Linked DNA regions of Homo sapiens. The protein of the gene in region 3 purifies or fractionates together with the protein of the main gene of each other region. This does not show direct contact. Each region holds a gene or a part of one and is shown on either strand. Other genes may lie near its edges. The genes, in order: PGLYRP3, AMZ2 and CTSO.

Region 1 (3,314 bases), on a different chromosome or scaffold from region 3:
TGTGCCACAGGCCGTGGTCACTAATATTTGGCTTAGAATAAATCTCTTCAAATATTTTACACAGTTTGACTCTTTGTCAACACCTTCCCTTGTTTCCAGATCAAAACCCGTGAAAACAAGAGCCAGCTCACGTGCTTCCGGTAAACAGCAGTACGTCATCATGCCCCCATCTGAAGAAAAGGAGCTTCCCTCTGGGCAAGAGGAGCCCAGGTAGGGAGGGCTACAGAGCACCAGGGCTCTGGGCTCTCTCTCAGCCCAACACCCAGTGGGACCCAGCCAGGCAAGGGCAAGTGGCAGGCACTGGGCAGCTTGTGTGGACACAGCCCTGGCCTGACCCAGAGAAGCACATGCTCCCTGCCTTCAGGGTGCTCTTGGGGGACATGGACGCGAGACCCTAACAATACAGCCACCATTACAGACAGACGACCAGAGCCAGCTCTGAGCCTTGGACTGGGAGGGAACAGGAACAGAGAGAATGCTGCTGGTGGGATGGGGACACTATCCAGGAAGGCTGCCTCAGAGGGGAAGTTCCGAAGCAAACTGGCAAGGTGAACAGGGACCTGGGTCCACTCATTCATTTATTCATCCATTTCTTTAACAAACATCTGTAGAACCTATTAAACTCCAAACACTGCTGAGGAACTGAGGATAGAGATGAATAAAATAGAATTCCTCCCTTGGAGAAACTTACAACCCAGAGGAGAGGACAGACATATCTATAAATCATATCTATAAATAATTACAGCCCTTAAGTAAGGGCTGCATCCAAATATGTACCAGTCCATGTGTGAGCAGAGAGGGGGGGTGGGCACACTGACCTAGGTCATGGGTGAGGGATGAAGGGTGGGGGCTTCCAGGCAGAAAACAGGGAAGGCTCACCAGGCAGAGGCGGGGAGAGGGGGAGAGAGAGAGAGAGAGAGAGAGAGTGAGAAAGCAAGAAAGAAGGTGAAAGGAAGGAAGGAAGGAAGGAAGGAAGGAAGGAAGGAAGGAAGGAAGGAAGGAAAGAAAGAAAAAGAAAGAAAGAAAGAAAGAAGAAAGAAAGAAAGAAAGAAAGAGAAAGGAAGCAAAGAAAGAAAGAAGAGGAGACAGGGGTTGGGGGGAGAGAGAGAGAAATGCCACAAGGACCAGCCCATTGTCTCGCCTGACTGAGGAGGTAAGTGCCCAGGGGAGAGGTAGGTAAAAGAGAGGGGAAGTCTAAACTCAGACCAAGAGGGCTGTGAATGCCCAGCTGTGAGGTTTGGGGGCTCCTGGAGGATGTTGGCAGGAAAGGACATGACCATTCAAACCTGAGAAAGGATGGGCTGGCAGGGGAGGGGGACACAAGGTGCTGAGCCACCTTGGCTGGTGAGGGTTGGAGAGACCCAGCAGGGGAGGGAGGGCAGTCTCAAAGGGAGTGGGGCCTCCTTCAGTGCTTGAAATGAGGCCAGGTGCTGATGATGTTATACAAAGCCTGCCCAGGGGACAGGATGTTGACCACGTCACTGTGGCCCATCAGCAGGTAGTTTGGAGTCAGGTACCCCTCAACCACGGCACACTGGATCAGGTCCTGGGCCGCCTCCAGCGCTGCAGCATTTGGAGGCTTTTCTGCAAAACACATTTTCCCCATCAGTCATTAGGGGCTCAAAGTTTCTTGATTAGGGAAGGGACAAGCACCTAGATTCCAGTTTCTTTCTTCCTCCACCACGCCCCATTCCGCCATCACCATAGCCAACACATTTACGTAAATTGTGGCAATCAGGCACAAAAAGAAAACAAGGTCATTGCTTTCTCTGATTCCTCCGTGCCAAAGTTTCTTCCAGAAGGTTAAAAACTGCTGTGGAGGGGGCCAGGTGCAGTAGCTCACGCCTGTAATCCCAGCACTTTGGGAGGCCAAGCAGGCGGATCACGAGATTAAGAGATCGAGATCACCCTGGCTAACATGGTGAAACCCCATCTCTACTAAAAATACAAAAAAATTAGCCGGGCGCCTGTAGTCCCAGCTACTCGAGAGGCTGAGGCAGGAGAATGGCGTGAACCCGGGAAGTGGAGCTTGCAGTGAGCCGACATCACGCCGCTGCACTCCAGACTGGGAGACAGAGCGAGACTCCATCTCAAAAATAAATAAATAAATATAAAAAACTGTTCTGGAGGAGAACTGCAGCACAACACACCACTTCTGAGCAGGTATAAAGCAGATACAGCACCACTGGGCCGCCCACTGGTTTTCCATAACAGGCAGTGGTGCTCCCCAAATTGTTGCCATGGCTAACAAGAAAGGGGACACATTTGCCAACTGAGCGATAAAAGCACTGAAGTTTGCAAAAGACGTTTCCCCCCTTGCTCCATGTTTGCCTTGGATATAAAGCAAGGTGGAGCTGGGCATGGGGATGGGTGGATTTGGGGGTAAATGCTCTGTCTGAAAGGGGATCCTGGTGACATCCTGTATTAAGAGTCCACTTTAAAGCTAAAATGTTCCATTCACACTGCCAGGCACTACAGGGCTGCCTTTCCCGCCATGCTTCCCAGACATGCTGCATGGTCCTTCAACCCCCAGCACCCCTCTACCCCATGCTCACCCCTTACCTACAAAGTAGCCGATGAAGGCAATTCCTAGGGCAATATCGTTGAATCCATAAGTGTGAGAGCCTTGGATGTGCCATCCAACCCCTTCATACACGCCACCATCCTGGCCCACCAGGAAGCTTAGGTCAGGAAAAGAAAATGAAGACAGTCACTCTGGGAAACAGAATTTAAATACTTCATTCACTCCTTCAACCACTCATTCATTCTTTCATCCATTCATCCAATATTGACTGGAGATCTCTTATGTGCCAATGTGGACAAGGACAGAAAACAAAACAAAACAAAAAAATACCACAGTCCACTTCAACCTGGCCTTTGTTCCCATCACACCACTAAATCTGACCCCTCCAAGGTGAGCAGTGGCTTCCTGGCACTAAGTACAATGGACACTTACTTTACTTCTAGACTACACTGACCCTGTTGACCACTCTCTTAAAATGTTCCCTTCCCCGGGCTTCCACAACCACAACCCTCCTTGTTCTCCTCCTCCTGCTGCTCCCTCAGGCCCCTCTCCCACCCCACCTTACCTTCCTCAAACATGGTGCTCCTCCGCACTCTAGTCTAGGCCATTCTCTCACTCAACGTATTCACCCTGGACAATCATTGCCACAGCTTCAAGTACTACCTGTAAAAACAGTCCAAGCAAACCCACCTTCTTCTAAAATTTATCCAGCTAGAAAATTGGACAACACCCTGAATGCCTTCTACCCCCTCACTCAGCCCACCTGGTCACCAATCATGGCTTGTCAATT
Region 2 (4,351 bases), on a different chromosome or scaffold from region 3:
GGTTGTGTGTGTTCTCATTGACTCTAAAGGAACATCTTGTTACAGAAACAGGAACTGGTTCTAGGAGTTTTACTCTCAAGCCATAGAAATATGCTTTACAGTAGCCCGTGAGCCATTTAATATATTCTTCACTGATAATTCTGGTGTTTCCTAGAGAGCCTACAATATGGAAGAACATTTAAAAACAGACTTTAAGATGATTATTCAGTGTTTACCCAGTCTATGAGTAAGAAGATTCAAATTAGAAACAAAACCAACTCTAAATTTTCAATAACCTTTATCATTCATTGGTGTTGCTATGAAACAAAAAGAAACAAAATGTTATCTTTTAAGTCAGTTTGGCTACAAAACTTGTACCGCCGCAATGAATATCAAAAACGATCCTAAAACGGCCCATCTGAATCAGACCCATAGCCTGGACTATTCCTGACAAGAGCGCCACTGCAAAACTGAACCAAAACCAGCACATTACCAGTATTTACCAATGGACTGTATATAAATGCTGCGTTTGTTTGGAGAGGGTGTCTTTCTGTAAGGATCACTGAAGAACTGTTCAAAGTCTTGGGGAGCCTCAGGGTGGGAGGTGATCCAATCTGATGGAGAATGCAAGGTAATGGGTCCAAAGAGATCACTGGCTGGCTGGAAGGCTTCATTCATTAAACGTTGTTCCCCAGCATTTAATTTCTCATACTGTGATACAAGCACTGGGTTCTTTGAGATGAGAGCTGTTTTTAGTGTCTGTTCGGAGTGCCGTATTATTTGCATCTAACAAAAAAAAGCAAGTAATCAAATATAAAAATACATATCTACATTGGGGACTTTACCTATCCTCTATATTTCAGCTCTGATTTCTCCCTAGAGTGAAATGACTGATTGCTAATGCTTTAGAGTGGTCACACTTAGAGTGGTTTCCTCATGTCCAATTTCTTGGAGATCTAAGAAATTAAAAAGACAATCATGAAATCCATTCCTCCATCTCATATGGAACCTGCTCCCATTACAAAAACTAGTGGTGGCCAGGTGTGGTGGCTCATGCCTGTAATTTCAGCACTTTGGGATAGGAGGATTGCTTGAGGCCAGGAGTTTGAGAACAGCTCAGGCAACATGGTGAGACCCTGTCTCTACAAAAAATTTAAAAATTCCCTGGGCATAGTTGTGCACATCTGTGGTCCTAGCTACCAGGGAGGCTGAGACAGGAGAATCACTTGAGCCCAGGAGCTTGAGGCTGCAGTGAGCCATGACTGTGCCACTGCACTCCAGCCTGGGCAAGAGTCCAAAACAAAAAAAAAAAACCTCACGGTGACCACAGGAGCAGGACCTCACACCCAACTTCCTTCTTTTGGGGAATAATATTGGCCTGGCACAGTGGCTCACGCTTATAATCCCAGCACTTTGGGAGGCCAAGGCAGAAGGATTACTTGAGCCTAGGAGTCTGAAATCAGCTTCGACATCATGGCAAAACCCCATATCTACAAAAAAATTAGCCGGATGTGGTGATGTGCACTTGTAGTCCCAGCTACTTGGCAGGCTAAGATGGGAGGATCATCTGAGCCCAGGAGGTCGAGGCTGCAGTGGGCCGTGATCGTGCCACTGCAGTCCAGCCTGGGCAATAGAGACTCTGTCTCAAAAAATAATAATATGAATTAACTCATCAGTGCCACATGAAAAATACTCATCGTTTCTAATGTGACTCAAAGATCTTCAACATCAAATAAAAACAAAACTAATGTAAGCCCTATCATTTCTGCAATTTAACTGCAGGCTGAGAAACTACAGCTTAGCCACTGAAGTTTATGGCCTCAAAGTCATGTCACATTAGGGAAGACATCAGATGACTAATCAAAAGCCAGCCTCACAATGACAGGTTTCTTCCATTCACATCGTGTTCCTATATAGAGCTTTCATCCTTCCTCTTGAATGGGTCCGATGTTCCACCACGAGGCTTTTTGAATTAAGGAAAAAGTTGAACATCTCTGTCTGGATCATCTTTGTCATATTTTCTAATTATTTAGATTTTGCCAGTTTAATGATAGACGATTGATGGGAAAACTTAAGCTAATGTCTGTTCTGATTGAACCTATAAATTCTGGGGTTGAAGAGGCTGACTAAAATTCCAGACCAAATGTCTCTGTACTCAAAGCTCTGATATAAGCATAGGCTCATCCTCACTCCTACACAACTGGGCTGAAATCTGACTTCTACAGGACAAAATATAAAACAAGATGTACCTTCCTGTAGTCTACCTACCTTGATTAGGAAGGAAGGCTCCCATGGAAGCTTTTAACTTACAAGGACGGACATGTCTGGGCCTGGCTGGAAGAAAGTTGTGGAGTGTGACTTCATCTTAATATTAAAAAGGCAGTGTGAAAGGTCAGGAGGCCTCCTCTTGCCTCCCAAGCCTAATCTAGGGAAGCTGCGGGAGAAGATGGGCAGGGGGCGCAGAATTCGGTCACTGCAGTGGGCTGGAGGCCTAGGATGCTTTGGTCCCAAAACCAGAACATCACGGGCAAACGGGAAGGAGCTGGCCACCCTGGCTGGTTGCCTATAGCAACTCGCACTGTGGGCTCTGGTCCATGCAGACACAACCCAGTCTCCAGCTGGGAGTGGAGTGGGGGTTCCCCAGGGACTCTCGCTTCGCCTCTTCTTCCCCAGGAGCCTCGGGAAAGGCCTCCCTGGCTCCCTAGAGGCACCGACCCCGCGGACCCCGCGGCTTCCGCCACGTCCGCCCCTCCTACATCCTCATCCCGCTCCACCGACCGCGACCGGCCCCCGCCTCTACGACCCGGCTACCCTGCCTAGGGGCCCCGGCCCAGCTCTGACAGCACCCGCGAACCGCCCTGACCCGACAGGCCTCGATACCACCCACCCGCGGCAGCCCTCACGCGCATGCGCACCGCGTCCCTTCGCACTGCGCCACGCCACGCCCACTGGCGCCACGCCCCTTACGCCACGCGCCGCGCCGCTGCGTCGCGCACGCCCTGTGGGCCCCGCCCAACTCACGACCCACCCATGCCACGCCCCTGAGCGTGCGGCCGCCTGGGCAGGCGCAGAGCTGGAGTTCAGCGGCCGCGACCCGCCTCTTCCAGAATAGAGGGTAGCGAGGGGACTACAAGCCCCAGCTGTCCACCCCCGCAGTCGCCGATTCCTCGCTTGCGCTCGCGGCGGCTCCGCGGCCCGGTTCTCGAGAGCCACAGATGCGCCCGCGTCGCTGGGGTCTCCCGTGTGGGAACGTCCTCGGCAGGCCGCGGGTTTGAGAGGCATCGCCGGCGTGACGAATGCAACCAGCGTGGCCCCAAATGAGTCGGCGGCCGCCGCAGGTTGACGTAGAGCCGCAGCGCTCCCCGGGGCCGTCACCCTCAGCACTTTCCCTTCTTTATTTGTTGGGGGCCGCGGGGGCTGGAACCCAGAAGCGCAAGTGTGGGGCGCGTCCTCGTGGCGTCCCTGGCGCTCCGAGGCCGAAACCCGGATGCTGAGGGGAGGCCGTGAGCTCGGAAAGGCACCGCGGGGCCGGCATTAGGGCTGAGCTAGCTCTGTACCCTCTGGTGGGACTTTCGGTCTCTCTGGGCCTCGCCATTCTCTTTCTTTTTCTTGCTTTTTTTTTTTTTTTTTTTTTTTTGGAGACGGAGTCTTGCTCTGTTGCCCAGGCTGGAGTGCAGTGGGACAGTCTGGGCTCAGTGCAACCTTTGCCTCCTGGGTTCAAGCGATTTTCCCGCCTCAGCCTCCCCAGTAGCTGGAACTACAGGTGCCCGCTATCACGTCCGGCTAATTTTTGTTATTTTTAGTAGAGATGGGGTTTCACCATGTTGGCCAGGCTGGTCTCGAACTCCTGACCTCAAGTGATCCGCCCGCCTTGGCCTCCCAAAGTGCTGGGATTACAGGCGTGGGCCACCGCGCCCGGCTTTTTTTTTTTTAATACGGGTTTTCACCCTGTTACCCAGGCTGGTCTCGAACTCCTGCGCTCAGGTGATCCACCCCCCCGCACCCCGGTCTCCCACAGTGCTGGAATTACAGGCGTGAGCCACGGCGCCCGGCCTGTTATTTTGAAGTCAAGCTATTTTACCATCCTCTGGATTTTCGTCATCCTAATTCTCCTTCCCAGTCTCAAGGAAAGACAGGCACATTTTCTTGATGACTTCAGCATTTGTAACCCCTTGTTGGCTCTCCTTAGAGGACATTAACTCTGAACCTTTCAACTTCGAGGATCTCTTTAGCCCTTCCTTATTTGTTCACTCTCCTGGATCATGAATTCTCCAAATTTGTCCTTTGAACCCAGTGCCCATATCCACCCTCACCTGAACCCATTCTTGAATAAAATGCATTCCTACCATGACTGTTCTCAAAGTTTGAAGTT
Region 3 (4,281 bases):
TGAGGTAGAAAATAGGTTTTAAAGCTTTCTTGGATAAAGCCTATTTGGAGGACCTAATTCCAGATTTCAAGGGGCTGATTACGGCAAGCACATATAAGTGGCTCATTAGTTAGGATCACTTGTTATAAAGATGCTATGGCCATCTATTTACACATAAATAAATATTCCTAAATATATAAATAATCTTATAATAATATAACCTGTGTCATTACGGCAACTGGTCTTAAGGTAAAGCTTTGGAAATTTTATGTAAAATCACATGTACTTTGGCATAGATATTATTCTAAAGTGAGTGTATCAAGCAAATTTTATTGGATCCAATATTGGGTCTGTGCCTCCCAAAAGGATAAGAATACCAAATGTTCTGTGGTAAAATAATGAGCATCAGTAAATATGAGGGCATAGCTAGGTTTTGGCACAAAGGAGAGTAGGCTAAATCCAATAGTTAAGAGCTTCCTGAGCACTGGAAGTTTCTAAAGGAGTGAAAGTGCAGAGATAAGGGGTGCCATCCAAAGTCAGGTGTCTTGTGAGGCATCCCATAATAAACCATAGTGGAGTCTAGTTTTCACTGAACAATACTATAATATTTTGTGGGAAAGTCATGGGCTAACCTAACTTTCATTTAACGTGCATTCCTGGGAAACTTACAAAACTATCTAAGGCTAAGATTAAAACAAATTTTAAAACCTTCACCATTCTCTAAACCCATGACCATGAAAGACATTACTAATTAATCAAGGACTTTCTTGAACCAGATCTTCAGCTGCAAACCCCTGAATCATCAATTCACCAATGAATTAACTTGATTTCAACAAGAAGTTTCACGGTTACCAAGGAGGCAAGGCCCTTTCCACCTTTCCCACTGTCCAGCTCTCTATCCCAAGTCCGAACAGCAATCTCCAGCTAACTAATCTAACTAATTCCTGATGATCTTAGATGAAAGACTTTCATCCCAAATCCATCCATCTCCCCCACTTCCCTCCTCCCGTCCATGGAAAAAATGTCTTCCATGAATCCGGTCCCTAGTGCCAAAAGATTGGGGACCACTAAGGTAGAAAATCGGTTTTAAAGCATTCTTGGATAAAGTCCAACTAAGCACCGAGAGGTGTTCAGTTTCCAGCAACTGTGCGTTGAAGCCTCAATGTTCTCTTTTTTGGGTATCCATCTCATGAAGCAAATTCTTACAGGCAGCAATTGCTTTGAAAATTTTTTCAGTATTTCTTAACCCGAGGTTTTTAAAATGTACTAAGAGTCTTCATAATTCGATCCTCCTCCACTTCCAACTTTCCATCTTTCAACCTGTTTCTTTGTATTTCTCCTGAGAAAAGTTACATTTTCTAGACATTCATCAGGGTATGGCCTCTTTACAGGACCAGTATGAGTCACTACATAAATTATACACATATATATTTATAAATTATCTAAAATCTAAATAAATGTTAAAAATATATTTATAAGTCTAGCCCTTTGAGCTTTGTCCTGAAATATTATTTTTAGGAGCCTGACAGTGTGTTTATTTATTTAGCCAATGAATACGTTACCAATAAAGGTGAAACTGACTTTTCCCCTAAGGGGTTTCGTTTACCAGGAAAACGAACGTAAGTTGAGGATAGGGGTAGAATACAGGCCAGAATTTTGTTCTTGAAAGAGTAAGAGGACTTCTGGTTTTGAAAGCTAGAACTGAACTCAAGAATAATAAAGTGGAGATAACAGTACACATCTCGGTTTGGACAAAACGTAAGAGTGGACAGAATCAGGGAAGGCTGGCCTTCCTAAACATTGGAGCTTTCCAGGAGAGTCGGGGGAAAAGAGCACAGCTATGAAATCCTGTGAGAAATTCCAACAAACACCAGGAAAAAAGATACACTTCCTTGAGCAATATTACTCAACTCAGACTTATGTTTGATTCAGAATGAAAGAATTTTCTTTTCCAATAAATTAAATCATGATAATGGCATCTTTCATGAATTTAAAAATGTGTTAAATAGTATCAGCTATCTAGAACATAGTGAGGCGAACACTAAATCGGCATCCCTTGCAGTTTCCTTGGTTTCAGGAAAATCATTATTTGTGCTCAGCTAACTGGTCCCTTCCAGAGTTTTCATGCTAGACTCAAATCTAAGTATTTATTATAAATATTATAAAATATAAATTATATTATATTTCGTATAATAATATGAAAAGGAAATTAAATGCTTCTCTTTTCTTCAACTCAGTCTCCGCCAAGGCAGGAAGAACTTTTAAAGTGGTGCGTTAGTTTAAGGAGAATCATAAACCATCAGGATTCTTTAATCTGGCTAAAGACAGGCTCTTTGTTTCTAACTTCTGATCACTAGCGCCCTCCTCGGGAAAAAAAAACACGACAGGTTTCTTCCACCAACAGGCTGCTCCCTGTTTCTGGTTCTCATAAAAGAGAAATAGAAGAGCTTTGGAAGCCAGTGGCAACGATAGAGGGGATTGCTAAAAGGGGGTGCTTCTTCCCACCAAGGACACTTTGGACGTATCTATGGATTTATTTGGGTGCGTCCCAAAAATCCATAGCGACAAATCTCTTCTGGAAAATCAAGTCTTTTGGTTAGCAAAGGCATGGGGGAGTGACACCATGGCACAAGGAGAGGGGAGAGAGAAGCTGGCTTTTGCACCCGCAGCTCAGGGCCCCAGACGCATCGCAGAGCCACGGGTGCCCACGAGCAGGGTCAGCTCTCGGGGGCCCTCTTCCGCAGCCCAGACCCGGGACAGGAAGTGAGGGAGCAGGGACAGATCCCGGGGAGGCGCGCGCTCGGTACCCGGAAGGCGGCGGCTTCACGCTCGCGGCTCCGCGGCCAGGTCGGGGTGAAGGGGGCGCGGGAGTCCGCATCGCCGCCGCCCCGGCACAGCAGCCACAGCAGCCACGGCAGCCACGGCAGCGCCCGCACGTCCATTGCGGCGCCCGGCTCCTCTGCCGCCCGCGCGGCCTGTTTTCTCTTTCGGTTCCTCGGCTCCTCCCAGCCTGGGCTCGAGGGGCGGAAGGAGCTGGGTTGAGTGCACGATGCTGAGATTGACCCTTTTTTAGGTCCCCGGTGTTCTGTGACTGAAAATCCGGTCAGCTGGAGGCTACGGACCTCCTTGCTGAGGCTAGTTTTTTTGTTTTTGTTTTTGTTTTGGAAGAGTCAGGCACTTGACCATGTGCTTTCGAGGTTTCACTTCCATCCATTAGAAAAAAAGAAGCCTGAGAGTCATTCTTTTGTGTGTGTTGAGATCAGGTCTCACTGCAGCCTCGACCTTCAGGTTCAAGTGCCTCCTGCCTCAGCCTCCGGAGTACCTGGGACTACAGGCGCGTGCCACCACCCCAGGCTATTTTTGTATTTTTAGTAGAGATAGGATCTTGCCATATTGCCCAGGCCGGTCTCGAACTCCTGGACTCTAGTGATCCACCCGCCTTGGCCTCCCAAAATGCTCACAGGTGTGAGCCACCTGGCCTGCCCTGTGAGCCACCGGAAGCTGCCTTTTTCCTTCTTGCCACAATCCCTAAGTTCAAGACCTAGTTCTGAAGTGATGTGGGCCAATACATAGAGTCATCCATTCAGCAGATGTTTATAAATACGTAACAAAATTGTACAGATGTGAAAAGCATACACAGTTTTTGGATCTATTATGGCAGTTTCAAAACTCTTGAAGCCTGTTTCTCCGTTTGCAAAGGAAGATAGAGCCAAGTACATAATTTGCAGGGTTCCGTGTAAACTGAAAATGAAGTTCCCTTGTTCATAAATTGTGAAGAATTTCAAGACGGCAACAGCAGAGCATTAACCCAAGCCATGGGCCTTCTAAGCACCCACTTCTGCACAGGTCACACACTCATGAACCTGGCTCTACCGAGCCTTTCTATTATCATCTATTCTGAACAAGGCTTCCATGTCTGTGAAATTCATATCATTACCCTTGTAGATTTTTAGAACTAACATCAGATTTATGTCTTTAGTTTTTACCTAGGTGCAGTGAGTTACAATATTCTCCAATGCAAACTTCGTAATAAAAATAAAAATAATGTTCCGAGTATTAAGAGGAAAGACACAAGAGTTTTTTATGTACGTTCATGATAAGATATATTGCTCTTGGCAAGTGTGGTGATAAAGATTTTATTTAAATCATAAGTTCACAGAACGATGTTCATGTTTACCTCAGCAGTTCTTTTGTACTTAGCCCTTTTTTGTGACTCATACAAGCACATACTTTTCTTTTTAAACTGAACTTTGCTTTCAGATCATAGTCCCTGTTTATTGACAACCTACGGAGTCAGGAAAT

The links.
Region 1: the proteins of CTSO (region 3) and PGLYRP3 purify together in Homo sapiens (affinity purification with mass spectrometry; one large-scale study listed by BioGRID and IntAct). This does not show direct contact.
Region 2: the proteins of CTSO (region 3) and AMZ2 purify together in Homo sapiens (affinity purification with mass spectrometry, with the first as the bait; one large-scale study listed by BioGRID). This does not show direct contact.

The regions. Positions count from the first base shown.
Region 1 is NC_000001.11:153,296,551-153,299,864, forward strand, and holds the end of PGLYRP3 (peptidoglycan recognition protein 3 precursor), read right to left. Parts: intron 3,188-3,314; exon of another isoform or gene 3,090-3,187; intron 2,682-3,089; coding exon 2,563-2,681; intron 1,585-2,562; coding exon 1,406-1,584; 3' UTR 566-1,405; downstream 1-565. UniProt on the Homo sapiens protein: Pattern receptor that binds to murein peptidoglycans (PGN) of Gram-positive bacteria. Has bactericidal activity towards Gram-positive bacteria. May kill Gram-positive bacteria by interfering with peptidoglycan biosynthesis.
Region 2 is NC_000017.11:68,246,602-68,250,952, reverse strand, and holds the start of AMZ2 (archaemetzincin-2), read right to left. Parts: upstream 2,911-4,351; 5' UTR 2,248-2,910; intron 768-2,247; exon of another isoform or gene 766-767; coding exon 483-765; coding exon of another isoform or gene 473-482; intron 160-472; coding exon 1-159. UniProt on the Homo sapiens protein: Probable zinc metalloprotease.
Region 3 is NC_000004.12:155,950,927-155,955,207, forward strand, and holds the start of CTSO (cathepsin O preproprotein), read right to left. Parts: upstream 2,941-4,281; 5' UTR 2,922-2,940; coding exon 2,787-2,921; intron 1-2,786. UniProt on the Homo sapiens protein: Proteolytic enzyme possibly involved in normal cellular protein degradation and turnover.